Regions from separate parts of the Homo sapiens genome. Here region 2 is linked to region 1. The links come from fine-mapping of genetic effects on gene expression. Tissue or cell type: thyroid. Region 1 holds a variant in brackets; the other region holds the start of a gene. All regions are shown on one strand. Distances are between the middles of the regions. Region 1 has its middle 28 kb from the start of NPAP1. Region 2 holds the start of NPAP1 (nuclear pore associated protein 1).

The links. PIP is the estimated chance that this variant, and not a neighbour inherited with it, causes the effect.
Region 2: NPAP1 starts here. The variant in region 1 is fine-mapped to the expression of NPAP1 in thyroid (GTEx, PIP above 0.99).

Annotation. Positions count from the first base shown.
Region 1 is chr15:24,639,886-24,655,558 of GRCh38, reverse strand. No RefSeq gene overlaps it. Among named protein-coding and RNA genes, the nearest start is that of NPAP1, 28 kb to the left of the region's middle. The variant G/TG (reference allele first, on the strand shown) is at 6,226.
Region 2 is chr15:24,668,544-24,684,216 of GRCh38, reverse strand. NPAP1 (nuclear pore associated protein 1) reads right to left here and starts at 8,442. Exons shown (of 1, transcript NM_018958.3): 1 at 824-8,442. The coding sequence starts at 8,349. The coding sequence ends at 4,879.

The sequences.
Region 1 (15,673 bases):
TGTGCATAGATTGATTCTAACTTTACCTTTAGGGTTACAAATGTGAGTTTATTGATTTATCTTTCTCTGTGGGTTCCATTCATAATGTTTCATATTCACCTTAATACTGTCATCTGGAAGCATACAGCCAAGAGTATATCAAGCCATTCTCCACATTCAGTGGTAAAATTGAGAGAGAGTAATCATGCCAGCTCTCATACAGGTGGGGTTGCAATTACTCCACCAACACATAGTTTACAGAACTTCGGAAATACTCCAGAAACAAAAGGCAAAGACCCCAGGAGAACCTATTTGAGTAAACTTGACCTTGAATCCTTCATCTTATTCCTGTCTGCAAAAAGACAGATGCTTTTACATAGCATGGCTGTCTTGCAACAAGCCCAAGGATGAGTGGTCATTCATTAGAGTTGTCAGAAATGACATGTATATATAGACTGAACCACCTCATATGACCCTCTCCTGGGTTTTCTATGTTATTTTGTTATATGTGGCCAATAAACTGAATATAATATGAAATAATGCAAGTAGAGCTTTTTATTTATACGAGAAGAACACAATCATTATCAAAAGAAGAAGATAATGTTAATGTATATCTACTCTGTTTGCTTCCCTGGTAAACATCCAGTTTGCTTTAATTCAAGAATCATCTTGCTTCTGTCCTTCACTATGTACATTCCACAGGCTGTTTTATTTGCATGGAGTATATTGCTCTTCATATTCGGTAAAATTTTGGTTAATGGTGCCTGGTTCTAATGCAATCACAATGTATAGGCAAAACATGTGTTCTTGACCAAGATCTGGCCTTGAAATTATCTTGATACAGTGTTAAATCACAGAACTCCTCATTACAGCTGTAGCTGGCAAAACAAAAGCTACTCTGTTAATTTGGAGTAAAAACATCCATAAACTATCAGTTGTCTTGCTCTATTGGTTTCTAACATCTCATAAATCATGAACAAATGCAGCCACTTGAGTAGAATTTTTAGGCTATTTGATTGAAGATTTTATTATTTGTATAGCATATATATGCTCTTGAGTCTCAGAGACCCCCCTCTGTAGAAATGCTTCATTCAAAAGAAAATATGTGCTTCTCAACACTGTCCTGTTGGCATTAGGGCCCTCCACACTGTGGGCAAATTCTCATCTGCTGTGGAGTCCTGAATTATGTATACCCTCTTCTTGCTGTTGTGTCTTCGTGGTTTCAGGTGAGGAAAACACTGTTCAACTTAGGGCGAGGAATGCCATCTTCACTAGCCAGGACACTCAGCCATCTATTCACATATAGACTGTGTCAGACAAGTGTCAAAGGTCCAGCCTAAGACAATGAACATCAACAGATTGGCTAAAATAATAGGCAGGTGGGTAAATTATTGACTTAGTAAAGGTAAATAAAAAGATAAAAAAGCATAAAAAGTCACAAATTTTAAAATATTATGCTAGTTTATAAGAAAAAAATAAGATTGCAATTCCCTTTCTACAAGACCACATGACAAAAATATTGGCTCTCTGGAAATGGAAGTACACATTTCCTGAGTGGCATTTATTATTTCAGTGAAAGCCAAAAACAATTTTATTAATCACTAATAAAAAAGTAGGAAAATAATACATATGTGTATTATATGTTAACTGTACAAGTAAATGTCATATAGATTTTTTTTAAAATAAGGTATATAGAATCATGGACTTCAGCCAATGTCTATAGCTCTTCAGGAAGAAATAAATCAAATATGGTAAAGTTCATACTTGCATATAATAAAATGGCTGGTCTCTGAATTCAGGATGTGAGTTTTAGTTTTTCTGTAGCCTTTCTCATAATTTTAATTGATTGATTTTGGTTTTTTTTTCTAATATTTGTCTTTTGGTTCGGGGTATATATGCAGGTTGGTTACATGAATAATTGCTTGTCATTGGGTTTGTTGAGCAAATGATTTCATCACCCAGGTAGTCAGCATAGTACTTGATAGTTTTTTTGATTCTCACCCTCTTCCCATCCTCCAACCTCAACTAAGCTCCAATGTCTTAGTTATTCCCTCTTTGTGTCAATGTGTAGTCCATGTTTAGCTCCCAATTATAAGTGACAACATGTGGTATTTGGTTTTCTGTTTCTGCATTAGTTTGCTTAGGATAATGACCTCAAGGTGCATCCATGTTGCTGCAAAGGATATGATCTCCTTCACTTTATGGCTGCATAGTATTCCATGGTGTATACGTACCACATTTTCTTTAACAGGTCCAACATAGATGGGCACCTAGGTTGATTCCATGTCACTGCTATTGTAAATAGTGCTGCAATGAATATAAGCATGCATGTGTCTTTATGGTAGAACTATTTATATTCCTGTGGGTATACAGCCAGTAATGGGATTGTTGGGTCAAATGGTAGTTCTAAGTTCTTTGTGAAATCTGCGAACTGTTTTTCACAGTGGTTAAAATAACTTATATTCCCAGCAGCAGTGTATAAGTGTTTCTTATCCTCCATAGCCTCACCAGCATCTGCAATTTTTGACTTGAATAATAGCCATTCTGACTTGTGTGAGATAGTATTTCATCGTGGTTCTCATTTGCATTTCTCTAACAATTAGTGATGTTGAGCATTTTTTTCATATGCACTTTTCCCTCTTCTTTTTCTCTCCCCTGTTTGCTTGATTCATTCTTCAGAATCTCCTCCATTGTTCCTTTTCCTGGAGGCCTTCCTTGTCCCTTCCATCACAAGTCTGATGCCTGTCCTCTCAGCTCCCAAGGGAAGCTCTTCCACCTATGGTTTAGCTTTCAGTTACGTTTTCTGAACCCTCACCAGACTGAAATATCAGAGAATATGAAAAGGTTGTGTGTGTTGTCCCCCTGTAGTGGACAAATAGCAACACAGAAGATTCACCTTTATATTGAATTACACTGATGAATTAATAAATCTCACAAACTCCTCAACTATATACTTGCCCACTTCCCAATAAACTCTCTATTTCTTTCAATCTGAAGAGGGTTTTAACTCGAAGGTGAACATGTTTCTTTTCTTCCTTTCTGTTGTCAGGGTAGGATGTGAGCCCTGTCTTCCCCTCAGCCTCTTCTCCAGCCTCTTAGCCCTCTCATGGGCCAGGCTACTTCTACATCTGCACTTGTACTATCCCTACAGACAGCATTACCCTCTTTGACAAAATAAAGTATTTTTGTGTTCCAAGTTTCAGTTCTATCAATTTGTCTCTCTGAATAAATATTTTCAAATCTTTATTATTTATTGCATTTTACCTATTTTAATCATGTTTTGTTTTCAAGTTTTACAATTGCTGTTAGCCTGGTAGTAGCCTTGACAGTTTTTAATGTCTACACATGTATGAACTTCACCTGAAATCTGCTTTCATCTTCTGGCAAGATGACCTACATCAAAACTGGCAGAATAAGTGTCAACAGGGAAAGTGGAAATCACACAGACAATGGTATAGCCTCCTTTATTGAGAAATGTTTTATTGCCATTAGTCTTCAAGCCACAGAGGATGATAAGATATCTATGGCTCTGTGAAAAATCTGACCTAGAACAATAAGAATCAGAATTTCAGGATACTGTGAAGTCATTTATGATCTAATTACAATATTGTTTTCATCTGTGTGTGAATAAACTTGTTCCTTTATAATTCTAAAAGGGTTTTTTCAACAAGTGTAAAATAAGTCTATTGTGTGCATAGTAGTATAACTGACAGAGATATTATCCTTTCCATATCAGAGGTACATAAAGGTTATGGAAAGGATTCCATACCCTTTCCATATTGAAGGTACATATTTATGGGATACATGTGAATATTTGGTATATTTGCATAATCAAATCAGTGTAATTAGGATATTCATCACTTTAAATACATTATGTAGTAAGGAGCATATCAGTTGAGACATATACTGTATGTCCCCACAATGAGACTCCTACAGACATTGTGCATTGGTCAATTCCGACCTTCTCTTTAGTATAACACATGACAGTTCCCTTATCTGTCTTTTTCTGTGAGTTTTACCCACAATACTCCTTATTCACCATAATACGGTTAACTAGAAGTATACAGAAAGGGGGAAGAGAAATGACTGAATAGGTGCAGGCAGAATGAATCAAGATGTTGTGGAGGAACTGGTAGGGATTAGATATCCCTCACCCACATGTGAAAACAACAACAAAAAAAATATAGAGACACCTGAGAACTGTCAAACAATGACATGAGCTCTTCTATTGCCTCAAGTTACTACTTCAAGGGAGTTTCCAGGCTGTGGTGTGGCATGGATTTGGAAGACACAATGATAGGAGAAGCTGGATCTGAGAGTCTGGAGAAGATTTCTGATGTAATCAAGCCGTTCTCCATATCCAGTGAACAAATGGGAGAAGCATTTTTGCCATCTTCCATCTGCCATCATTACTGAGAGATGGATCATAGAAATATGGGAATAGATTAGAAGAAAAAGGCAAAGACACAGAAGGAAGCCATTTGGATATACTTGGTTTTCAACACTTTCATTTCATACCAGACTTCAAAAAGACAGAGGCCTTTATATGATACAGCAATCTTGCAACCAGCCCAAGGATAAGTGAACATTCCTTAGAAATTAGATGAATGAAGTGTGTGAGTAGACTGAACCACCCCATGTGACACGAACTTGTCTTTGCTATGTCGTCTTGAGTATGGCGAATAAACTCACTACATTGTGAAATAACGGAAGTAGAGCTTCTATAGGAGTAGAACACAATTAGTTCCAACAAGAGGAAACTGGTAAGGCTTATCTCTTCTATTTGTTGCCTAGAAAACCTTGTTTCTTTTAAATTTGGGAACAATCTTGTCTTTGCTCCTCACTACATAAATGTTACAGTCTATAGATTTTGCAGAGTGTAGGCCTGCTCTTTATATGCAGTGAAATAAAATTAAATGGTGCCAGGCTCTAATATAATTATTTTTTTCAATATTTGCCCTTAAAATTTTCTGTGTACAGTATGGAAGCCCACAGATAGACTGCTGACACACTTGGGAAAACAAATGCCCATCTATTAATGTGCAGTAAAAGTATTACTGTGAAGTATCAATGTCCTGCTCTGTTGGTTGCTCATGTTTCATAAACCTCGAATATCTTTCCAGATATCCCCATTTCCAGAATGAGAAAATTGCATTACTTGCACAGGAATCATATTCTACTGAATCTCAGAGAATCACCCAGGGATGCTTCCTTCACAGGAGAATGTGTTCCTCTGAAGTTAATCATGCTGTCATTAAGACCCCCCAAATTGTAAGCCCTAGTTAAATCATAGTCTGTTTGTTGGAGTTCTGATTTTTTCTGATCTCTTCTTACTTCGTGTCTGTTGGTGGTTTAAGGTGAGACAACCCCTGTTCAACCCAGTTTGAGGAGTCCTATCTTCACTAGCTGGGACACTCAGCCATCTATTCACATATAAAGCAAGTCAGAGGAGTGTCAGAGTTTCAGCCTAGAACAATGGACATCAGTGGATCAGTTAAATAATAGGGAGAAGGATAAATTATAGACTAAGTCAACAAAATGAAAATCTAAAAAGTCAGGAGTGTAAAAATATTTTAAAAGTATTATGCTAGCTGAAAAAAATACAATATTGCAATTCCCCTTTTACAAGCCAATATAAAAATGTCTGCTGACTACAGCACAGGTATGTACACATTTTTAAGGCAGCACTATTTTACATCATTGAGAACTGAAAAAAATTTTAGTAAGCACTCATTAAAGAGTAAGAAGACAAAGCATGTCTACACTGTGGGTGATGAGTACAAAGAAATATCATGTACACAATTATGAAAGTGATGTGGAAGGAATCATGGACTCCAGCCAGTGTCTATAGCTATTGGGAAAGGAGCAAATTAAAAAATAAAACATGAGTGGGCCAGGCACAGTGCCTCACGCCTGTAATCCCAGCACTTTGGGAGGCCGAGGCAGATGGATCACGAGGTCAGGAGATCAAGACCACCCTGGCCAACGTGGTGAAACCCCGTCTCTACTAAAAATACAAAAATTAGCCAGGCGTGGTGGAGTGCACCTGTAGTCCCACCTACTCGGGAGGCTGAGGCAGCAGCACTGCAGAGGCTGCAGTGAGCCAAGATCACGCCACTGCACTCCAGCCTGGGCAACAGAAGAAGACTCCATCTCAAAAAAAAAAAAAAAGCTTTAGCACCATCCCCTTGATGCTGTCCTCACCACAGTGAGTGATTTCCTGAGATATTTGGCTGTTAAAAGAGT[G/TG]TGGCTCCCGGCTCTCTCTCTCTTGCTCCTACTTTCACCATGTGACAAGCCTGCTCCCTCTTCACCTTCCACTGTGACTGGAAGCTTCCTGAGGCCTCCCTACGAGCTGAGCAGATGTCAGCACCATTTTTACTGTACAGTCTGCAGTTCCGTGAGCCAATTTAACCCTTTTTATTTCCATAAATTACCCAGTCTCTGTTATTTCTTTATAGCAATGCAAGAATGGCCTAATACGAATATAAAAGTGACAGAAGAAAAAATAGGTAAATTTCATTTTATCAGAATTAAAACTTTACTGATTCAAAGTATGGAATCCAGACAACCCAAAGAATGGGAGAAATGTGTGCAAATAATATGAGCGACAGGAGACTATTGTTTGAAGACATAGAACACTTACAGTTTAAAAATAAAAAGGGAAATATCCTAATTAAAAGTTGTGTAAATAAACATTTCCCAAAGAAACTATACAAATGTGTAATAAGAACATAAAACTATTTTCAACACCTTTGGTCCTTAGTCAAATGCAAATCTAAACCATTAAGAGATATACTTCTGAAATCTTAAGCATATTCTTAAGAAATAGAAGCCAGTTAGAAAAAGAGTATATACTGTGTAATTCCATTAATATGATATTATTGAAAAGATGAAGTTATAGAGATATTTAAAAAATAGTAGTACGGTCTTGAGGGAGGAAGGTCAAAGAGGTGAAATACAGATTTTATTTTTAAGCATTAAAATTATTTTCTATGATGCTATAATAGTGTGGTAATGATACTATTCTTCATATCCCGAAGAACTTTACATCAGAAAGAGTGAAACTTTACAAAAACAATAAGCATTATTTAATAACTTGGAGGATCCCAGGGAACAATGCAGACAAAATAATATAATTGTGTAATAAATTTATAAAGATGCCTTATAAAGAGCATGGGGGCAAATGGGACTAACCCAAGAAACCTAGAATATAAGCTTTCCTGTCTAAAGGTCAAAGGATTTGTACATAAGTACTCTAGTTGGTAATGTTCTTTCCCATGAGGGTGTGAATTACCAATTCTGAAACCACATTGCATGTATTTTGGGACTCACTGATTACATAAAGTTGGCCAACTGTCTCACTGTTAGAGTGAGAGGTTACATAGCAAGTAGTGGGAATTGGTGGAAAGATTAATGTTTACTAGATTATATTCAAGTAGTGCTGAAGACATTTGTAGAAATTCATGCTTAATTCTAGCCAGATATATATGGACAAATGTAGAAATACATGTATATATTCAGTACCCTATGAATCAACCTATCTATTCATTCACTTGTGTGTAGCCTAAAACTCTAATGGTGACCAAATTGGTTCTGTTAACTTAATCATACCATCTTTTTGGAATCTTAGTGGTATTTTTGGTGAATGGTATTAGAAATAATATCATATATACATATATATTATACACACACACACATATATGTGTATGTGAGAGAGAGTTACTATATACACATATACATTTCTTTGTTCTCTCAGATGACATATCATAGAATCAATCCATTCCTAGCGGTAAGGAGTATACCCACTGCCCCAAACTTTGTTTCTAATATCGTTCACCAAAAATTCAACTAAGGTTCTTTGGGAACAAAAAGATGGTATGATTAAGTTAACAGAATCAACTTGGTCACTGTTAGAGTTTCAGACTACATACAAATAAATGAATAAGTAGATTGATTGATAAGGTAATGAATTAGATCATGTGGTGCTGGAAGCAATATAAACATATGTTTAATTTCATATAGATATGTATAGATGTGCTGAAATATTTATGCAAACGTGTATATTTATGAGTAAACACAGATATATTTCTTTCCTTTGTCAGCTGACAGGGCCTTAAATCAACAAGATATAACAATGTTTATAGCATATGCACCTAATAACACAGTGTAAACTATAGGAGGCAGAAATTGATAAAACTGCAAGAAGAAAGAGAAGAATGTCAGGAGCAATGAGTATACCCGGTGTCGAGATCTTAGTTTGTGATTTCATTTTCCACTCAAAGAAACTAGAGTTTCATGAAAAAAAGTGAATACTAGGCTTGGGTGGGGAATAAAACACAATGAGCCTGGAGCATCTAGTAGTGCCAGAACTAAAGAAAATGTCAAACCACAACACAAATATCCAAGTAACCAACAGTAAATTAAACGCTAATCATGAGGGTATTTCAAAATGAGAGAATCTAACTGAAAGACATTCCAATGGCCATCATTGAACAATGAGAGCAATAAAACAAATGCATTAGCATAGGTAAAATTAAAAAAAATCCAGGTTTTCATATTAATATGAATAAATTATTGAATATTTAATAAGCAAAGAAGAATAGACACATGCTTATGGTGAGGGTTCTAAATAACTTTTGTAGACACACTGCTCATAAGGAGTGGAGCATGATCCCCCACTTCTTAAGTGTGTGTTGCATATAGTCACTTTTTTAAACATTAAGTATGGAAAGGGAAAAAAAGGTGTTTTTAGAGAAATTTGATAAAAAACTACTCATCCAGGTGATTAAATTAACATAAACCACGATATAGCATGTAGATAGCATGTTGCCTTTGATATAATGTGGGAGAAGGGCACTACCTCTGTGATTCTGCAATCATCAGAGATGATTCACAAATTCAGGGCAATGATCAGAGAAACATCAGAGAAATTCCAAAGTAGGAATGTCAATGTCATCACAAACAAGGAAATGGTGAGAAACTGTCACCATCTCTGTATCTAAGGAGACAGATACTAAATGTGATATGGTACCCTGGATAGAATCCTGGAACAGAAACTGGATATTAAGTGAAAATTGAGAACATCTGAATAAATTGTAAATTGTAGTTAAAGATTATATACTGTATTTTTAGTTTAATTGTGAATACTGTCCTGCACAAATCTAAGAGTTTAATAATAAAAGGAAACTTCATTGAGCATAAGAAAAGTCTCTTTTACTATATTTGCAATTGTTCTGTAAACCTAAAAATATTATCAAATTTAAAAGTTTCTCTGCTTTAATGTTTAGCTTAAAAATCATCACATCAGTAATATTGCTGATGTCCCTTTAATGTATCTCCTTAATTTCATCATCTTTAACCACTGAATGTAACTATTATTGTGAATTCAGTCTTTGGCATTACCTAATTTTCTTTATTATTTTTATCTCTTCGTAATTTGAAAGACTATATTGTTTAGTTTTTCTTGACTTTAAACTTAGATGAATGTGTTTAATTTACTACGCATCACTAGTCTAATCATAAGAAATTATCAGACGAATTTATATTGTGGGTCATTCTACAAAATGCCTGACCAGTACATTTCAGAAGAGCAAAGGTCATGAAAAATAAGTAAGAAACTCTTGCAGAATGGAGAAGACCTAATGTGATGTGCAGATGCTAAAATTTTTCCCAGTGGTCCTCACCTGTAAGTATACATAACCTTGAACTGTAATTCACTGTCTGTGTGTGTGGTCAGAAAACGTGACTTGCCTGCTGTGAAAATCAATTTATTGATTTTCTGCCTGGAAAATTTGCAATGGTGATGGTATGTTACTTGAATGATTATGTTACATTAGATTATAATTTCTGTCCTGCTGGCTGACTCTCCCTTGATGGATTTTTGTTGTTGTTTTGAGACGGAGTTTTGCTCTTTCACCCAGGCTAGAGTGAAGTGGTGCGATCTCAGCTCACTGCACCCTCTGCCTCCTGGGTTCAAGTGATTCTTCTGCCTCAGCCTCCTGAGTAGCTGGGATTATAGGCGCCTGGCACCATGCCTGGCTAATTTTTGTTTTTAGCAGAGATGGGGTTTTGCCATGTTGGCCAGGCTGGTCTCGAACTCCTGATCTCAGGTGATCCAACCGCCTCGGCTTCCCAAAGTGCTAGGATTACAGGCGTGAGCAACCGTGCCCAGCCTTGATGGATTTTATGAAGAATTCTTCCACTTGCAAGAAGCTCACTCGGGAAGGAATTTAGTCAGCCTATTGTCAGTAGCCAGCAAGAAATTGGGGCTTTCTATGCAATAGAATTCCATATAGCTTGCAAAACTACATCTAAAATTGGTCTAAGCTCCGTTCCTGAAAAGATCATACTGCTTCACAGGTAGTGTGAATACAATAAAAAAAAATCCTAATTTCTTTCTCCCTCCCTTTGTTCAAGAAACTGTTATCTGTTAGAATAAACAAATGGAAAATCATTAAAACAACACAAAATAAAACTGATATATAATTTATTTGTATAGCCACCTCTGAATGCCCAATCTGGCTGTAGCAGAGAACAACACTGAGCCCACAATATGACACCATTCTCTGAGGTGATCAGTTAGACACCTGAGGGTAGGTTGATTACATTGGACTGATTCCATCATGGAAGGGACAGAGTTTTGTTCTTACTGAAACAGACACTTACCCTGGACATAGATTTATGTTCCCTGTATGCAAAGTTTCTTCCAAAAATGTCATCCTTGGACTTACAGAATGCCTTATCCACTGTCGTAGTATTCCACACAGCATTCCTTCTGACTAAGGAACTTACTTCAAACTCAAACAAGTGTGACAATGGACTTTTGCTCATGGAATTCACTGGCCTTACCATGCTACTCATAATCTTGATGCACCTGACTTGACTGATTGGTGGAATGGCCTTTTGTTTTTGGGGGTTTTTAAATTTTGTTTTTAGTTTTTAATTTTTGTGGCTACATAGTAGGTGCATATACTCATGAGGTACGTGAGATACTTTGATATTGGCATGCAATATATAATAATCACATCATGGTAAATAGGCTATCCATTCCCTTAAGCATTTATCTTTTGTGTTACAAACAATCTAGTTATATTTTTTTGGTCAGGTTATTTATTTCTTCTTTTTTGATGCAGGTAGTTATATCTATAAATTTCTCTTTTAGTACCACGTTTTCTGTATCCTGTAAGTTTTGGTATGTTGTGTTTTGATTATCACTTGTTTCAAGAAATTTTTCAATTTCCTTCTTCATTTCTTCATTGACTCACTGGTTGTTCAGGAGCATGTAGTTTAATTTCCATATGTTTGTATAGTTTCCAAAATTCCTTATGTTTTTGATTTCAAGTTTTATTTCATTGTGTTCAGAGAAGATGCTTGATATTACTTCATTTATTTGAATATTTTAAGACTTGTATTGTGAACATATGGTCTGTCTATACTGAGGAGAAGAATGTGTATTCTGTAGCCATTGAATAAAATGTTCTGCAAATATCTAGTGAGTTCATTTGTTTTATGGTACAGATTAAGTCTAATATTTCTTTGTTGATTTTATGTCTGGAAGATCTGCCTAATACTAAAAGTAGGGTATCAAAGCCTCTAGCTATTATTATATTGGGATCTGTCTCTCTCTTTAGCTCTAATAATATTTGCTTTATACATCTGTGTGCTCCAAAGCTGGAGATATAGCTATATTTATATTATCTATATATCTATATTTAGACATATATATCTATATAATAGACATATATATCTATATAATAGACACATATATCTATATATAGACATATATCTCTATATAGACATATATATCTATATAATAGACATATATATCTATATATATAGACATATGTATCTATATATATAGATATAGATAGGTATATTTTTACAATTGTCATATCCTCTTGCTGAAGTGGCCCCTTTATTATTATGTAATGTCCTTGTTTGTCTCTTCCCATAGTTTTTTTTTCTTGAAATCTATTTGTCTGATTACCCTAAGTTACTCCTGCTCTTCCTTGGTTTCCATTGGAATAACTTTTTTCCATCCCTTCATTTTCAGTTTATAGGTGAAGTGTGTTTCTTGTATGCAACAGATCACTGGGTCTTCCTTTTTTTTATCCATTAAGCCACTCTTTGTCTTTTCACTGGAGAGTTTAGTCAATCTACATTCAACGTTATTGACAAGTAAAGACTTACTCTTGCCATTTTGCTATTTGTTGTCTGGTTGTTTTGTGTTCTTCTCTTCCTTCTTTTCCTTCCTTCCTGTCTTCCTTTTAGTGAAGGTGATTTTCTCTGGTGGTACGCTTTAATTTCTTGCTTTTTTGTGTATATATCCATCATATGTTTTTCTCAATTTGAGGTTACCATGAGGCTTGCAAATACTATCTTATGACCCATTGTTTTTAAACTGATAGCAGTGATTGCAGAAACAACCTAACAAGCAAAAAGGAAACTAATAAAAACTCTACATTTTAACTTCATACTACACTTTTTAACTTTTGTTATTTTTCTTTATGTCTTACACATGCAGTCTATGTCTTGAAAAATTGCCAAAGTTTTTATTTTGATTGGTTAATCATTTGGTCTTTCTACTTATGAATAATTTACACACCAAAATTACAGTGTTACACTATTCTGTGTTTTTCTGTGAGCTTACTATTACCATTAAGTTTTGTACCTGCAGATAATTTCTTACTGATCATCAGCAGTGTACTGGAAGCTCAGGTGAAACCCTCAGGCTCTTTGTTTCTTCCCCAGACTGAGGAAAGCAAGGGCTGAGCCATTGCTGTGGCACTGGCACGGGGGCTGTCAGTTGCCACTGGGAGTACTTCCCCAGGGAAACACAGAGCCACTACTAGTGGGTATGCTCAACAATGGGTGGGGAAGCTGCTCTGTGGTCCTGAGCCAGGGCCTTGACTGTTGAAGAGTTGGGGGTGGGAACTCGCAGGGAAGAGAAATTGGGCTCCTCTCCATATGGTGGCTACAGTGTGCTGGAGATGCCAGTGTAGTGCTTAGGCCATTTGTTCCTTTCTCTGCCTGAGGGCAGTTAGGGCAGTACCACTGCAGCTGCAATGGCAGAAGGGTTGTGGGCTGTCTCTGGGATTTTCTTCAAAGAGAAATGCAAAGCTGCCAGATGGAGTATTTTTTCTAAGATGGAGTCATTTATGTCAATGGTGTTCTACACAGGACAGGAACCTGCAGGTGGGGTAAAGTGGGGAATTGGAGTAATGGAGAAAGAGAAGTGAACAGGAACATCCAAGTCCATGATACTGTCAGTCAGCCTGCCTAGGGTCCTCTCTGCCTGTCTTCATCCTTGTCCTCCCCACACTCAAAGCCTCCTGATAGTGCTCATGTCTATCCCCAGAGGGCAGCGACCATCCTCAATTGTTCTGTCTTCCTGATGGGCAGACCACATGGGCTAAAGTAACATTTCAAGAAACTAGATCTAGACATTTAAAGTTCCTCTACACAGAATGTATTCCTCTCTGAGTTGCTGCTACATCACTGCCTGAGCTGCCCTCTCTCACTGGCTCAGTCCCTCCATGGTCTGCCCTTCCTGTTCCTGCAATCCTTACATTTCACTGAACCCAGCAGTCTGCTAATACCACTGCCCTCTTCTCACACCCTAGCCTGTGCTACAGACACACTTTTTTCTCTTCTCTTTCCTTTTTCCTGTTTGCTTGCCTCACTTCTCATTCTTCAGAATCTCTTCTATTGTTCCTCTTCCTATAGAATTTTGGTTCAGATTCAGAACTAGAACTTGAGAGAGTTAATAGTGTCTGTCTGCCTCTTGAGATGATGTGAGAATTGAGTGAACTAATATACATAAAATGTGTAGTCTAATCATTGTTCAGTAGTACACATTACATCAGCATTTGCTAATAGTGACTGCTTTTTCCAAGTACTTGCAGGAAGTATCATGTGCATCACGTATAAATACTTCATTATTTTATGTCACAAGCATAAAACCAGTGAAAAACTATAGCACTTATCACTTATAATTATCATTTATCACTTATAATTGCACAAGTAGCCAATGAGTAAAGTGACCACAGTGCCAGAGATGAAGATTATGCGTGTTCACACCAACAGGGACTTTCACTCACCAAGGCCAACCTGGCTACGGCTCCCTCTGACGGCTCCATCTGCCAGCATAATTATCTCATAATTATTGAAAATAACTTTTGAACTTTTATAAATGTGGCTATTTGTCTTAAAACACTCCTATGATCATATGTGATGGAATATAAAAGCAAAATACATGAATGAAAGTATTCCAAAATTTCTCTCAGTCAGGCCAAACTCTTCTGAATCACTTTTTAACTCATCTTGTCCACGAGTATTCCTCCATTATCATCATCTGTTAATTAGGACCTTTGATAATGCTACACTTATGGTGAGGGTCATATCAGACTTGGAAAACCAAGGAATACAATTATGTTAGTTGGTTGTTTCTAATGTTGCTAGGCAAAGTGATGAAGAAAAAACAAATTTTGAGATCCATCTTGACATAAGTAGGCTTAGAGGTTCTAAGTGTGCTCTAAGTGAAAATGTAACCAGCAAAAGGGTCCAGCTGCTCACCACTTACAGAAAAAAGCCAAAACAACAAGAGCAAGCTGTGACAGAAAGAGAGTGGGCTTTATATATGTGCTAGCAAAGGGAAGAGTGGGTGGAATTCTTTCCAAAATTTTCCACTTTTCAATTTGTGGAGGGAATATGGAGTTTTTTAGAGAGAGGGGTTTGGAATGCATGAGAAACAAGGAACTAAGAGGTGTCAGGTGATGTAACCCACTCCAGTGACTTGTCTTGAATTATTGTTCCATCTAGCAAAGGGGCCAGCACCATGGTGGGCTCAACCAAGTTACAAATCAATGGCAGTCACTCTTATAGTTAATGTTTAGCCAGGAGTGGGTTCTGGCCTTGAAGTAATCTTTTGTCAGAAAGGGAATTCCGGAGATGTCTGGTCTGTATCAGGACGCAGCCTCTGAAGCTCCTAAAAAAAATATCAGATGAGAGAGCATGGTATGTGCTTAACGAGCATCTAGGTGAATAAATGTGCATAAGGCTTGGGAGCATAAGCCAAGAAAGGGAAAGGGAGCGGAGGCTCACAGCACATTCTGAGACTGTATGTCAAGACGAAAGAAGACGTATTTCTAGTTTTTCTCAAAGCCACATCTTGAGACTGGGAAGAAAGGAGGAACAAAAACATTCTGAGGCTGTGAAACACATCTGTAGTTTGTCTCAAAGCTACATTTTGGGACTGGAGAGAAAGGAGGAAAGAAAAAAAAGTTTTAAAATGCAGTTTGAAGCTAAGTTGCTCTATTACAAGAATAATCTCTCCTGTAGCCACAGGGCCAAAATTGCTAAAATCCAAAGACAAGCCCAAATCACACAATTGGCTAAATTACAATGAAAGTTGAACTCCTGGTCTAGCAAGGGACCTACTATCAATTGAGGGCATTAGTTGGGAAAGAATGGGATCTTGTAAATTGGAATGGAAACCTCTGAAAACACTGATGAGGCTGGAGACATTGAGCTCTGAAATTCTGATGAGTCTCCAAGATAGCTAAATAGGAACAGCTCCAGTCTACAGCTCCCAGCATGAGTGACACAGAAGACAGGTGATTTCTGCATTTCCAACTGATTTCTGCATTTCCAGGTTCATCTCACTGGGGCTCGTTGGACAGTGGGGGCAGGACAG
Region 2 (15,673 bases), 29 kb before region 1:
TTTTTTTAGCAGAGATTTTGTTTGGCTTCTTTTTTTCTAGTCCCTCCCATGCCCCATTTCATGCATTGGATAAATCCAGGATCTAGATCATGGCTGTAAAACTTAGCAAATATTTGATTTTATGAGCCTCAATTTTCCTATCTGGAAGGCACATCTGATGATGATATTCCTGTCCTGGGACTTCTGAGAGAGCCATTCCCAGCTCTGCCTCAGGTAAAGAATGAATTGCTGTTTGGGAAGCCCTCATTGCATCACATAACCCTGGGATCACAGCAGTGACTGGTTAAGGGGGCCCTGGACAGTGTTCTCACAGTTGGGGGCAGTTTCTAGACCTCTAACATGAAGATATTTAGAGCAAGAAAGACATGCATCCATGAGTTGGAAATTCTCAAATTTTCCGCAGGCCATTTTCTAGTTCATGAGACACAGATGTAAGGAAAACACTCTGCTTATTACTAATTAGGGCTTTGGAACCACATCCTATACAAATTTTTTTATCTTATGAGATGAATGAGGACTTTGGTGAGCTCTCATGTAAGGTGTGAAGCAGTGTTTGGAATAATAGGAAACATGGACTGTCTGCATCATACCTCCCTAGAGTGCTGCCTGGAATCCAGATTCCTGGCTCTACCATAGATTCAGGAAATTAGGATGATGCAGCCAGAATTAGACATTTTTTAAAAATTATTGATTAGTGAGCATTTCTGGGCTAAACTAAAAGCAGTTTGGGTGGCTCCTTTAGGCCTCTTTCTTCTGAGACCATGTCCTTATGTTTGAAATGCTTGTTCCTCGGTGTCGTAAAGAAATAGCACTTGAACATAAATTTATTTAGTAAGGCCATTTTTACTTCCTGCAGAAAGGGTACACTTGCCAGCAGTTTTGCCACAAGAGTACACCGAACAAAGGAGACAGGGTCATTTATAACCTGACGCGTCCACCCTACTGCTGTGTCCGGTTTCCATTGGCTGGAACAGGACCTCACATTCTGTATTTGTCCCGATTGGCTAGCAATTTAGAACTTTTAAAAGAGGCAAAGGTAGAGGAGAACAAAGGAATGAGGAAGTAACTTGTGGAATGCTGAGAAAGGTAAAAACACTTCTAAATAAGGAAGAGGAACAGGCTATGACCTAATGCTTGGACCAGTATAAGCATGCCAGGGCAAATACTTAGGCTAAATTGTGGGAGCTAAGAACATAAAGTACATTGATTTCTTTATTATGACTAGCAGATATTTAAGAATGTTAGTACAGGTCTGTGAATACATTTTGCTTCTAAAAGAAGTTACTACTTATTTCTAATTAGATAGGGAGGAAAGTCTTTGAAGAGGAACCTCTACTTTACTTTTTACATTTACTTTGGTCTTACCACTCCCAAACCAGTGGAGGAGGCTCAAGGTTTCTGGAAAAGGAAGGGATTCAGTCAAGTAAACAATACTATTTGAAAATTCTAGAAACCAAAAACATTTTTTTTTTATGGGAAAAGAGTTCAAGGAGAAAAAAAGGAAGGCACTTCAAGTTTTAGGAAAAACAATGACATCTGTAAGATAACATAATAGTTGAAGTAAAAAAGCAAACTCAGAACTATGGGAGTGACATCAAAGTAGCTAAACACTATCTCTGGAGGAGGGAACTGTGGTAGGAAGGTTGACTTTCAGTATTATTTAAATTGATATTATGTTTGCTTTTTATCTTAATAAAAAATAAAAGAATATTTAGAAATAGTTTCAGTTGTGTAAGTGCATCAAAACATGAAAACAAAAATTATCTTTGTATCTCTCACACATTTATTCAAAGTTTGTCTTACCAGGATCATAATATTTAGCTTGAAGCCTTTTAAAAAATGTCAAGAAGTATGAATTTTAAAAAATTTGTCCCTGGTAATACTGCAAGGGTATAGGGCTATTAGAAGAAAACTGGATTTCCACTCTACTTCTGAAAGGCAGTTCTGATTACAAAAGTTAGGTGATTATCTGGCCAGGAAACAGGAGCTTTGATCCTCTGGAACTGTACTAAACAATTTAGAGCGAATGAATCAGGCCCCAGGGTGCCAAGAGGAATTCAGTAATTTCTCTGTGATTGTTTTCTTTCAGGCCTAATCTCATAAATGTTTTAGTCTCTGTTATCATATTTTTACATGTGTTTGCTTCATAAAAGTAAGTGCTTTTATGCTAATAAAAAGGGGTTCTTCCGAGAGGTGGAGCGTGCAGTGAGCCAAGATCACGCCACTGCACTCCAGCCTGGGTGACAGAGCAAGACTCCATCTCAAAAAAAAAAGGGGGTTCTTCTATTCTTCTATTTGAATTGCCTAATAAAGGCAATCAGGGCACCATTGCCTAAGGAACTCAGTCATTGACCATACATATATATGTATATTATCTATCTATCTATCTATCTATCTATCATCTATCTCTATCATCTATCTATGTATCTATCTATCATCTATCTATCTTTATTAGTCAGTTCTGATTGCTACAAAAAATGCCACAGACTGGTAGCTTAAACAACATTCAATTATTTTCTACAATTCTAAAGGTTAGGAAGTCCAAGATAAAGACAAATTCTGTTTCTTGTGAGGACTCTTTTCCTGGCTTACAGACTGTTACCTTGTTGGTATACCTTCACATGGCAATTAGAGAAAGCACTGGTATTTCTTCTCATAAAGGCGCAAATCCCATCATGGGGGTTTCATTTTCATGACTTCATCTAAACCTAATCACCTCCCCAAAGCCTCACCTCCTAATACCATCACACTGGAAGTTAGGCTTCAAAATATCAATTTTTGGGGGTACACAAACATTCAGTCCATAACGTTATCATCTATCTATCTATCTATCTATCATCTAATCTATCCATCCGTCTATCCATCCCTATGTATATAACAAATTACAACAAAAGCTTATAAGTCATTTCTCCATATTATTTCATTTTATCCTTTCAAAAATCTTATGAGATAAACAGGCCATAGTAAAAGTACTGATTTCATTGAGACTTTTGAAGTTTGAGTCAACTGTTATTACACAATTAGTAAAAAGTGGAGGAAGGAATTCCACTCACATCTCTCCTCTGTCCTCTTCTCTATCCCTCCCTCCCACTTGCTGACTCCATTCCAGCCACATTTCCTTACTAACTGCTCCATGAGGACACCAGGGATCCTTCCTTTGAGCCTCTGCAATGACCACTCCTATTATCTGGAAAGGTCTTTGCTCATATATCTGGCTCAACTGCTTCTCTCTAGGCTTCGTTTAAATTTACCTTCCCAGTGAGGCTTGTTCACAGTGTAAACTGAAACACCTGCTTCTATCTACAATCTCAATCCTCCATGTACTTCTTTATTTTTCATAGCATTCGTTACTGGCTAATTTACCAGATAATTTCCATGTTTTTGCTTCTTTTCTCCCCTTCAACTAGAATATAGGGTCCACAAAGTCGGGAATTTTGCCTTTCTGTCCATGACTAGAGAGAACTGGCCCAGAGGTAGGGTCAGCCAAGTTAACAGTCAAGCCAGGTTTCCTCTACCCTCCACAGTGCAGAAGACCACTAAAATACAGTGCGGTTCTGACTGGGCTCATCTGCTCCACACTCACCAATAAACACACACACACACACACAAACACACACACTCTCTCTCTCTCTGTCTGTGGTTTTGGGCCTCCAGCTTCTGTAGGAAGAGAGCAGGTTAAGTTTAACCTTGAGGGAACTGAGCCCATTCCTCCTGGAACAATGTCAATTTATGAGAACTGTATGTGCAGGGAGAGTGCTTATTTCTTAAGACCATTGATAGGAGTAAAAAATGAGTTGGTGGCTCCTATGAAGGCCTTGGCAGGTACAAGTGTCACTAGTGGCTGCTTTCCATCACAGGCACAGGTGCTCTGACCAGGACCATCCAAACACAAGTATTTAACTAACAATGCTGGCTCCTCTAGGCTGGGCATGGTGGCTCACACCTGTCATCCTAGCACTTTGGGAGGCCGAGGTGGGTGGATCACCTGAGGTCAGGAGTTTGAGACCAGCCTGGCCAATAAGGTGGAACTCTGTCTCTGCTAAAATTATAAAAAATAGCCAGGTGTGGTGGCATATGCCTGTAGTCCCAGCTACTCAGGAGGCTAAGACAGGAGAATTGCTTGAACCCAGGAGGTGGAGGTTGCAGTGAGCCGAGATTGTGCTACTACACTCCAGCCTGGGCTAAGGCTCCGTCTCAAAAACAAACAAACAAACAAACAAACAAACAAACAAACCAAAACAAAAACAATGCTGGTTCCTCTAAAGTCAAAAGGAGCACCTTGGTTGGGCAGGTCCATAGTATTTTTACTGAAAGGGAGACTAGAGGTTTCTCCCTACAAATATCTGGGGCTATCTCCTATTGCACCACCTGCATTTAGCCAGGTGGGCCTCAGGTGCTTTGTGTAAATGGGGGACCAAAAGTACAACCAGTCACAGCCGTTGTGTTGCTGTCCCTCATTGCATGGTTTGTGCTTTGTCCAGGTGGGCCCCAGGTGCTTTGCTGATACATGGGCACATGAGGGCCTTCTATCAAATGAATGTTGACACTCCTGGAAGAGGTACCATCTGTGTTTTGTCCAGGTGGGCCCTAGGTACTTTGTTGGTAGGTGGATACACAAGGGCCTCTAATTAAAGATATGTTGCCATTCACTGCAGATGCACCACCTGTGTTTTGTCCAGGTGGGACCCATGTGTACTGACAGAGAAAGGGAGCACAGGGATGTTGTTGTCCCCTCCTGGTGCACAACCTGAGTTCTGGAGAGGTACATGGCAGGTGCTTGGCATGAAGATGAAACTAGAAGCATGACCATACAAAAGGATAATGCTGGTATTTACAACCACAACTGATGTGGTGTGATCAGGTGAACCACAGGTGCTCTTACGGAAGTTGGAAACAGACATGTCTCCTAACATATGTTTCTTGTCCATAGTAGTGGGTGCTTGAAGTGTAGAATTTTCTCTCTGTCCATGTGTGCTGCAGGATGCACTGTTGAAAAGCAGGAACACAAGGGCCTCCAACTATGGATCTGGTGCCATCCCCTCCCATACCACTGCATGAATTCTGGGTAGGTGGGTCTAAACCAGGAATGTAGGCGGCAGCAGAAGTATATCCAAATACAGGAATGTTGCTAGCCCCTTGTGGTGCAGCAGCCATGCTGTGGCCAGTTGGGTCCCAGGCTGCCTGACCAAATGGGAAAACAGAAGTGGTGCTGGGTGTCCCACTCTGTCCTTGTCCAATGTTGAGTTCTCCTGATGTGGAACTGGGGCCTGGGGCAGACATGCTGAACCCAATGCTCCCACCATCCATAGGGGTTCCAGGTCCCATAATCACTTGTGGGCCTGGAATAGTATTTCCAACCAGTAAGGTACTGTCTCCAGTGCCAGGCATCCCAGTGGCAATTCTAAATCCAGAAGTCTTTGCTGTGCCATTGGGGAAAGCACTTGCATTGTGACCCTCGACTGGCTCAGCATTAACAGGTGTGCCCAATGCAGTATATGGTGATGTTAACTCTGCAAAACCTGGTGGAATTATGCTGCCACTCAGTGGCTGGACTGAAGGAGATGTTAAGCCTATAACTGGTGCTGGGGTTGCTGGATTCCCCAGAATAAAAGAACTGTCAGACTTCTGCTGCCCATCAGTGGCCCCAAGTGTGGAATGAGAGATGGATCCTGTATTTAAAGGATGGCTGGAAGTTGTGGTTGGTCTCCTATCTGCCTGTGCAGGAAAACTGGTGGAGACTTGGGCTGAGGCAATGCTGTCACTGTGTAGTGTGTTCCCAGAACCAGGAAGCCCCATATAAAATCGGATGTACTCCTCCTTCCTGGAGACAAAGGTAGACTGCAAGATGACAGTTTTGGAAGGAGGGGTGGTATTCATGTCACTGGTGTCAATGGCAGGCTTGGATAACGATGCTGCAGAGGCACTGCTCACTAAAGTGGAGGTGTCTGGAGGAACCATGATAGGAAGGCTCAGGAAATCATGGGCACTGGGGAGAGAGGTTTTCTGCTGCGGCCCATCAGGGGCCCCAAATTTGGGTTGAGGGGTGGCTCCTGGATTTAAAGGATGGTTGGAAGCTGTAGCTGGTGCCCTGACTGACTGTGCAGGCAAACTGGTGGAGCCTTGGACTGAGGCAGTGTTGCCGCTGGGTTGTGTGTTCCCAGAACCAGGAAGCCCCAGGTAAAATGGGAGGTACTTCTTGGAGACAGAGGCAGACTGCAAGATGACAGCCTTGGAAGGAGGAGTGGTATGCATAGCATTGGTTTCAATGGGAGGTTTGGATGATGATGCTGTAGAGGCACTGTTCACTAAAGTGGAGGTGTCTGGAGGAGGAATGATGGGAAGGCTCAGGAAAACACAGGCACTGGGGAGAGAAGCTTTCTGCGGCTGCCCATCAGGAGCCTCAAATTTGGGCTGAGGGGTGGCTTCTTTTCCAAAGAGTTGGTTAAAACTTGGGGTGGTATTGTGGAATATAAATGGAAGTGGGGATGTGTAGACTGATGTCTTTCCCGGGTGCCTCTGCTCTGCACTGCAATGTATTTGGGAATTTGGGAGAGAGCTCACTCTGGAGCTTAGGGAAGATGTGAAAATAACAACCTGAGATGGGGCAGTAGTATCCATATTAACTACTTCAGGGTCTACCGCAGTCTGTGAGGTTAGGTGGGCAGATGCGTTTGTTGTGACAGTGGAAATGACTGACGTGGAATTCATAGGCTTGCTGGTGATAACTGAGGTCCCGGTGGAAGGGACTGGAAGAAGAGTCAGGAAGGAAAGAGGAGGAGGGGAATCCACACACATAGATATTGGGGACTCCCTTGTGACGGGAGGCTTGAAGGAGGGTGTGGAGCTAGGAGGTGTTGGGGGGTCAGAAGTGAGAGGCGCTGCTCCTACGACTGAATTATAAGAGCCTCCTTTCTCATTAGACTGATCACCCAAAATGGGAACAAGGTCAGCAGGAAGAGCCAGAGGAGAGTTAGGGATTGTGAATGCTATTTTCTCATCCATTTTTGGTGTGGTGGAAAGTGGAGGGATAGGCAGGATGAGGGGTCCAGTAGCCAGGTCAGCCAAGTCAGGGATGGGCAAAGGAGCTGAGACCTGGGAAGTGTAAGTGGTCAGGGGCAGGGAGTCTGTGGTCTGCACAGGTTGGGAGAAAGAAGGGGCAGGCTGGGTGATGCTGCTGTTTGTCATGGTCTCTGTTTTATCCTCCAAGATTCTGCTATTCCTTTTATACTCAGGGCTCTTCTCCAAGGTGTGTAGGTCTCCCTCAACAGACAGGCAGGGGAGCTTAGCAGGTGGGGGAAGCTCACCTCGATCCCACAGCAATGGCAGTGAAGGGGGCAGCGGCAGCAGCAATGGAATCGACATTTTCCTTTTGCAGGGCCTGTTGCGGGCAGCTCTGGGAGGAGCAGCGCTCCTTGGAGGAATACAGAAAGGCTTCTCATCAGGCATCCTCTTTCCGGACATCAGCGGAATCGGCAAGCCTAGGGAGCTGGGCGGTGGCTCTTCATTCAGCACTTCCGCAGCCAACTTCTGCTGCAGCAGGGAGCAGCCAACGGCTGGCTCAGGGGGCGCTGTTGCATCCGGATCAGGCTTTCCAAGATGCCGGGCACATCCGGCCTGGCTGTGTGTGCTGGGCATGGCAGGGCCTTCCAAGCAGGAGCTCGCTGGAGACGCCTGGGCCTTCTCACTCATGCTGTTTTCTGAGAACTTGTGGTAGACATTTCCCTCCAGAGGCCCAGGGCTGCATCTGAAGGAGGCCACGTCTCCCTGGGTGCCCTGGGACCTGGATGTGGACGATGCTTCTCCGCTGCTAAGGGGGGTCCTTTTCTCGTCATCCTCCCCTTCGATCTGCACCGGATCCTCATCCTTCTTCACTCTTCTGGGCCCTTCTTGGGCCCACACCTCGGTCTCCTCCAGGAGAGTGGCTGGGATGGGCTTCCTGGCCTTGACCGCCGGCTCACGTGGTGAAGGCAGCAGGAGAGTGAACATGCGGCTGGGAGGAGGGATCCTTACGGAACTGGGGTGTCCAAACCTCGGGGGGTTCCGAGCAGGCAGCATGGGTGTCTTCCTGATGGCCAGCCCCCAACCCACAGCCGGCAGGACCCCCAGAGGGGCGGCCGCAGCCCGAGGGAGAGGACACGGCCTCTTAGGGGCGACGAAGATGCTGGCTGCTGAAGGCCTGCGACGGGCGTTCCGGCGGAACAGGCCGCGGAAAGGGCGCGGGGTGGGTACAGAGTGAGCCCGACCGGGCGGGGAGGCGTCCCGGGACAGGGGAGCGGGGGCGCCACGCCCTGGCCCTGGCAGGGGCCGGCGGCGGCACCCGGGTCTAAATTTACTAAGTAAATTGCCCATTTAGAGCTAGCCGTGCCTCCTACCGTAAAACAGGGTCAGCAGTGGACTCAACTCTCCTCAGCCACCGCCTCCTCTGGCGACCAAGCACAAACTGACTGGCTCTACGCCTGCGACGCCGCCGCGAGGTTCCTCACAGAACCAGGGAGCGCCAGCGGGGGCGCAAAAGGCAGGGGTCAGAGGGCAAAGGGCGACGCCCCGTCGGCCCCAGCTGCCCCAGGACCCCCGGAAGCCCCGCTGCCGGTGGCAGGTGTTGCACCGCGTGGCCTCTATGAGGGAACTGCTGGGGCCTGCGGGCCCATCGCCAGAGCTCTTGTCACCTGGGCGCCGGCTCTGCCTGTTCCTTAGCCCTGGCCCGGCGCTGTTGCACGCAGTGGCCCTGTGTCGGCCGTCCCCATTCCCCGGTTCACAGAGGGCACATCTGCTTCAAGTTAAGCACAGGACAACCTATATCCTGCCAGCCTCCTCTAGGACCTTGGCAGTGCTCTGTGCTGCCTGGAGCCAGGTGTGCCGTCTCTGTGGCGCCAGGGTCACCAGCCAGGCCGTGAGGGTTTCCGAGGAGGGGACGTGGTGCCTTGTCCTGACTAGATGCTACGCCCTACCACATCTCTTCCTGGCAGGCAGGGCCTCTTCACTTCTTTTCACAAATTTGTTTTAAACAACATTTAAGGCTGGGCGCGGTGGCTCACGCCTTTAATCCCAGCACTTTGGGAGGCCAAGGCGGGTGGATCACCTGAGGTCAGGAGTTCGAGACCAGCCTGACCACCATGGTGAAACCCCATCTCTACTAAAAATACAAAAATTAACTGAGCGTGGTGGCACGCACTTGTAATCCCAGCTACTAGGGAGGCTGAGGCAGGAGAATCGCTTGAAAGCGGGAGGTGGAGGTTGCAGTGAGCTGAGATCACCTCACTGCACTCCAGCCTGGGGGAACAGAGCAAAACTCTTGTCTCAAACAAAAACAAAAACAAAAAACCACAACAAACAACAGCAACAACATTTAAGCCTTAGGCTGCTTGCTCCTTGGGTCATTGATATGACAGTGGCCTAGCCAGGCTTCGAACCTGGGCTGTGTGATTCCAGAGCTGGTGCCGTGGCCTGTGTGCCTCCTTGTTATGGACACATCATGTATTCTCATTATTTCCTGTAGTCCTTAGGGTACCTAGCACACAGCACATCTGTATTAAGCACATGCGTTCCTAGGGGGAAGCCCTTACTTCACCTCATAAGTTGGTCATGGCAGGCACTGGGCTCCAGTCTCCTCTGAAGACATGGGGCAGCGACCCCCAATAGTCAGCAAAGCAGCATCCCACACTGTTCTTCTAATTGAGCCTTGCAGCCCAGATTTCCTTTTTGGTCTAGTTTGAAGGATCTAAATATGTAAAGATTATAGTCCAGATCCATTTTGGCCTATCCCGAAAGAAATTCACCAGTGGATTAATCCAAATGGATAAGCCAGTTCTCTGGCCTTCTTGGAATATGTTAGAAAGCAAATTCATCATGTATTTGCAAGTCAGTAGTGGAGCAATGTATTCGATTAAAATATGATCAATACAATTTGGTCATTGTCCGCATGCCAGCAAGGCCCACTCTTTACCACACATTACTGTCACCTAAGTATAACTATCCATATTCTTATGCCCAAGGAAGGAGACTTAATATTGGTTTTTAGGACAAAGGAAATATGTGTTACTGTTTTAAGAGCTGGAAGTTTCAGCATGACAAGAAAGATTTGGAAAATCCTACACATGACCTTATCTAGTTTTAATCTTGTTTCTTTGGTTTATTTAACTGGACTGCTTTGCTCTCTTTGGGCTAATGTTGTGTGCCAGACATAGGACATGTGGAAGGTTCAGAACCAAGAATCAGAGATCAGTAAAAATATTTTAATGTATTTTTTAGTTTAAAAATCGATTTAAAATAACATCAAACCTAGTTAACATACTACAAAATCCTTTTTATCCCCCTGTTCATATATTTTATACTATGTCAGAGTAAATGTGGGCTTCCATACCCAACAAAGCTTATGTTTCTAGGACACAAAGTTTTGCTCAGACCCAAATTCTGTTTAAAAAGAGGAGACATATTATAAGTCCTTCCTAACCTCTCAGGGAACCGAGAAATTGTTTACAATTATGGCATTTAACTGTAATCTCTTGATATCATTTGAGGAGAGTTTAATAAAAAATAATCTCTTGATTTTATTTGTTTAAACAAAAAGAACAATCTGGTACAAGTTTTGGACAAAGATTTCCTACAAGAACTCTGAAACAAAATCAAATGTCAGGCTTATTTGAAAACAATAAATTACAGCATTTTCCCCCAAACAGGAAAAATGCATTAAACAAATAATGAATATTGGGGCTTCAGGACAATAAAAGGAAATTTGGACAAGGGTATTCCAGAAAAATCCACCTCTTTATTTTTCTTGTCAAATGGGAATAGATGCTTTTTTTGAATATAAAATCTTCCTTGTGTTTGTGAGGCAAAATAACATTAGATGGCAACTGATTATTCTGAGATCTTTTGACTTGGCAGACGCAAACATGTTGAGATGAAATTTGTCAAGGCAAAATATTTTCCAAAAATTTAATTTAATAATTATATAAATACTGTGATAATAGCAACAATTTATAGTTGCCAGGTGAGATTACTTGTAATTTAATAATTTTTTAAAGCACCAATCTCCAGTCATATCAAATGAATCTCTGGGTGGCTAGCTTTGTATAGAATTGTGGTAGTGACAATAAACCATACCTAGCACCCTATAGTTGAACACTTTCACCAACAACCCACTGTAAGTCATACAGAGTTAATGTGAGGACACACTGAATCCTTTGGACTTTATTGACTCATGAACCTCATTAAATGAACTTTTTTCCCTAAAATAATTTCAGTCTCCTCTCTCGTGAAGAAAAGTTATCTGAAAAAGGAATGTGGAGGAAAGAGACTTTATTCCAGTGAACTGTTTGCATCCTCTGTTGCAAAACAAAGGTGCATTCCAGAAAACAAAGGGAAGACTTGGGTTTTATAGCAAAAGTTCGCTGTCCAGGTTCCCACATAAGTTTCTTTAGGCAAATGAAGGTTTGAAACTGGCTTAGTTCTGGCCCACTGTGGTGGCTCACATCTGTAATCCCAGCAGTTTGGGAAGCCCAGGTGAATGGATCACTTGAGATCAGGAGTTTGAGACCAGCCGGGGCAACACAGTGAAACCCTGTCTCTACTAAAACTACAAAAATAAATAAATAAATAAATAAATTGGCTGGGTGTGGTGGTGCACACCTGTAATCCCAGCTACTTCACTGGGTGAGGCGGCAGAGGTTGCAGTGAGCCAAGATCATGCCAATGCACTCCAGCCTGGGTGACAGAGTGAGACTCTGTCTCAAAAAAAAAAAAAAAAAAAAAAAAAAAGAAAAAGAGAAAGAAAGACATTGGCTTAGTTCCAATTGGCCAGTGCAGGTATAAACTCTAGTCAGCAAATGGCTGCTGGGCTGTATTTTAAATTTACGCCCAGTTAGCCACACAGGATTGATTTAGAAGAATTGGCTCTTTCAGATTCACATTTGTCCACACTCTTCCGCCCTTTACTGTAACCAGGGCTCAGCAAGGACAGACAGACTTTGTGCTGCTACTTCTTAGAGTAGCCTTTCCTTGGTTGTTTCATCTATTTCCTCTCCAGTTAACTTTTTGCTTTTCAGAAATGTATCAACACCTTTCTGTGGTTGATGACTTCCACAATCTCTTGGCTTTCGTTGGTCTACTACATTTTGGTATTTGTATACTTTTATTTAAGTACAATTTCAGGAGGAACACAAAGTAAATATGTGTTCCTGGTCTGTCACCTTGAACTGAAAGTTCCTGTTCATTCTAGAAGCCAACCTTCCCATAGGAGAAAACTACCCTTAGTATTAACAGATGTAGCATTCAAGACTTTAATTTTTCTTGAGGAATCAATCACTAAGGATTTAGGATATGGTAATTTCTGTATGGGGAAATAGTACCTATCCCATGGAGTTGATTGGAAGATTAAATTACATAATCGATATAGAAATGCTTTGTAAAATTTTAATTTCTGTGAAAATGCTTTTTTGTTGCTATATAAATTTTATGATTTTTTTTATGTAAGACCGTGTTTTTTGGTTAACTGTTTTGAAAACCAAACTGCATTTTTCATTAGCTCAATGGAAATGAATGGCATTGTTTTTGAGGGTGGGGATGAAGCCATAGATATTTCTCGATATCTATTACTTCACAATATTTTCAGCAACTAATTTACTCATGTATTCCTCTTTCCAATTTTATTGAGGACCTACTTCCTCAAGAAAAGTCAGATGCTTTATTTCAGGTTTTGGCAAACATTTTCTAGGTTTTAAATATTTAAGTCTTTGTGGGCCAAATGCAGTTTCTTTAGCTCCTCTTCCTCCTCCTCTTTTACCTCCTCCCTTTTATTCTTCAGGAACACTTTTAAAATGTAATCATCATTATTCGCTCACAGGACATACAAAATGATCTGTGGGTCATTTTTGGCTAACCCCTGATCTATGTCTTTACTGAGTAGAAGGCACATCTTTGAGTAAATCGCTTGTTTGAATCAACCAATCTTTTTTTTTTTTTTTCTTTTTTGAGATGGAGTCTTGCTCTGTCATCCAGGCTAGAGTGCAGTGGCGCGATCTCGGCTTACTGCAACCTTCGCCTCCTGGATTCGATTCTCCTGCCTCAGCCTCCTGAGTAGCTGGGATTACAGGCACCTGCCACCATGCCCAGCTAATTTTTGTATTTTTAGTAGAGATGGGGCTTCACCATCTTGGCCAGGCTGGTTCCAACTCCTGACCTCAATGATCCACCCACCTTGGGCTCCCAAAGTGCTGGGATTACAGGTGTGAGCCAACGTGCCCAGCCTGGTCTCCCCAATCTTGTCCTTAATTTCCTACAGTCTCTAATCAAAATGATCTCCAAGAGAGATCCTGTTGAAACGTAAGTCAGATAATATCACCCAAGCCTCTTCAATGGCTTACTCAAAGCAAAAGCCAAAGTACTCAAAATGCTTCCAAAACCCTAGCAATCTGAGCTCTCCATTTCCTTTCTGACTTCATTTCCTTCTTTCCACTCTGATCCCTCTTTCCCCTACACAGTGACATCATCCTTTCTGTTACCTGAATACTATATGAACACTTTTGCCCATGGCTGTCCCATCTGACTGTTTTCTTTACCATTTCTTTTCTAACACTCATTTTCCAGACATACACATCATTGTTTCCTAGGATCCCATTATGTTTCTTCTTAAATTTCACCTTCCACATAATTTCACATTGCAACCCCCACACCAACTGACACTCTTCAACTCCCTTCCCTGCATTATATTTCTTTCTAGGACATATCTGATATACTGTTTATTTTACCTATTTATTTAAATTTAATTTACATGTGTACACTTATGTTTATGTATTTGCATATTCATTTGTTTACTCCCCCCCACCCAAATAGAAGGTAGGAATATTTACTTTTTCTTTTTCGCTAATATTCCTTGAATATACCTGTAAACCAGTACCTGACATTTAGTAGGGTATCAATAATTTTCTTGAATGAATTAAGGTGTGGGTTGATTAGTGAATTAATCCCTAGGGTTTCTGAATTGAAGATTTGTGTGAAGAGGAAGGCAGCATGGCTGGGACAGGGTACTGTGAGAAGCAGTATTTGGAGTTCTCTGATGTGTATCTTAATATATAGATTTTTGTTCATTTAAATAATTTTAACAGGGTAGTTGGGAACTAGTTTAGGGAGACACATCACAAAATTTTTGTAGTGGATTATGTAGGGTTCTTTTAAAGTATGTGTAAGTATTAAAATATATGCATGTGTATACACCTCTATTAATTTATTGAACGCTTTACAAGAGCCCTTTGAAGTAGCAAGTATCAGTATTCTTCATTTACAGATGAGCTTAACTTGCTCAAGGTTGTATCATAATTTAGTTATAAATGTAAAACTAAACTTTGAGTTTTTGAGCAGATCCTCCCTAGAAAGCTGTGACTTATTAATAAGATTCTGGTAACCCACAGAGATTTATTCAGCTTCCAACAATGTACAAACTACAGACTCAGTTATGGGTCATTCATTTTAATAAAGGGAAAAAGATTTATCCAGCACAAAACATAGAGAATATTAAATGTTATTCTCTATTAAGATAAGTAATGGGAATAGTAGGCTCCAGTCTTTCTAAAATAGCTGGAGACCATCATATCTGCATTATGGCCATGGGGATGTTCAGCCAGGCTGCCTTTCTCTGTCACTCAGAAGAATTCTGATATTATATAATTATACTTATTGAAACAGATAAGGGACATTGGGCAATTAAGATTTCTTCAGCTTGATTTTTCCAGAAGGCTTGCCTGTAAAATGAAGATAGTTGGTCTGAACACATTCAGGTATGTAGAGGTTGTTAGGATCTTACTTTTGGCAGTGAATAAAGTGAGCTTATTTTATCTCTGCAGCCTCCCATATACCTATGTCCAGCCTCTGTTTTGTGTTTGGAAATAACCAAGTATAAATTAAAAATCAAGGTAACTAAAACAAATTATTTATTGATGTATATAAGCATGCAGAACTAAATGTGATCTAGTTTAAATATTTATTTAGTGTTGTATGTTTGGGAGGAGCCTTCAAGGTATCAGAAAATGAAATTTAACTATCCTGTTGTAAACTACAGTACACACACACATTGAATTACCAGTTCTGCTCACCTATAGAATCATCTTCAGGTGCTACACATTCCTATGTACCTGGTATGTATCATTTAGCTTTCACAATTTTTCAATTACTTCTTAATACTCAGTATTCCAATTTCAATCTTGCCAGGACCTGCACCAGTTATGTAGAAGACAAGAATTTTATTTTCTGTTTATTTATCTGTGTTCAGAACCCAATGAAAGAACAATAAAGTGGGATTGAGGATATCTAGGTTCTTGTTCCAGATCTATCAAAAAATAATTGTGTCCCCTTGAGAAAGTCATAGTCATTTTGGGGTCCCTTTACTTCTCTTTGTTTTGACAGAGTCCTACTTGACTCAAAAAATACTTGATTCTTCGTAGTAGTCGTTTTTATGTCATTGGTATTGTAGTAGTTGTTTATATGTCATTGGTATTCTAAAACAAATAAAGACAATTACATATGAAGCTGTGTAGCATCTCTTTAACTATGTCTTTAGAGCTTCCTCCATTTTATAGAAGATAAAATGGCAGAGATAGAGCAGAAGTGGATGGTTCGACTGGGGGTCCAAAATAGATGGAACTAAAACATATTTCCTTCATTTCTTGAGCTCATTTAGCTA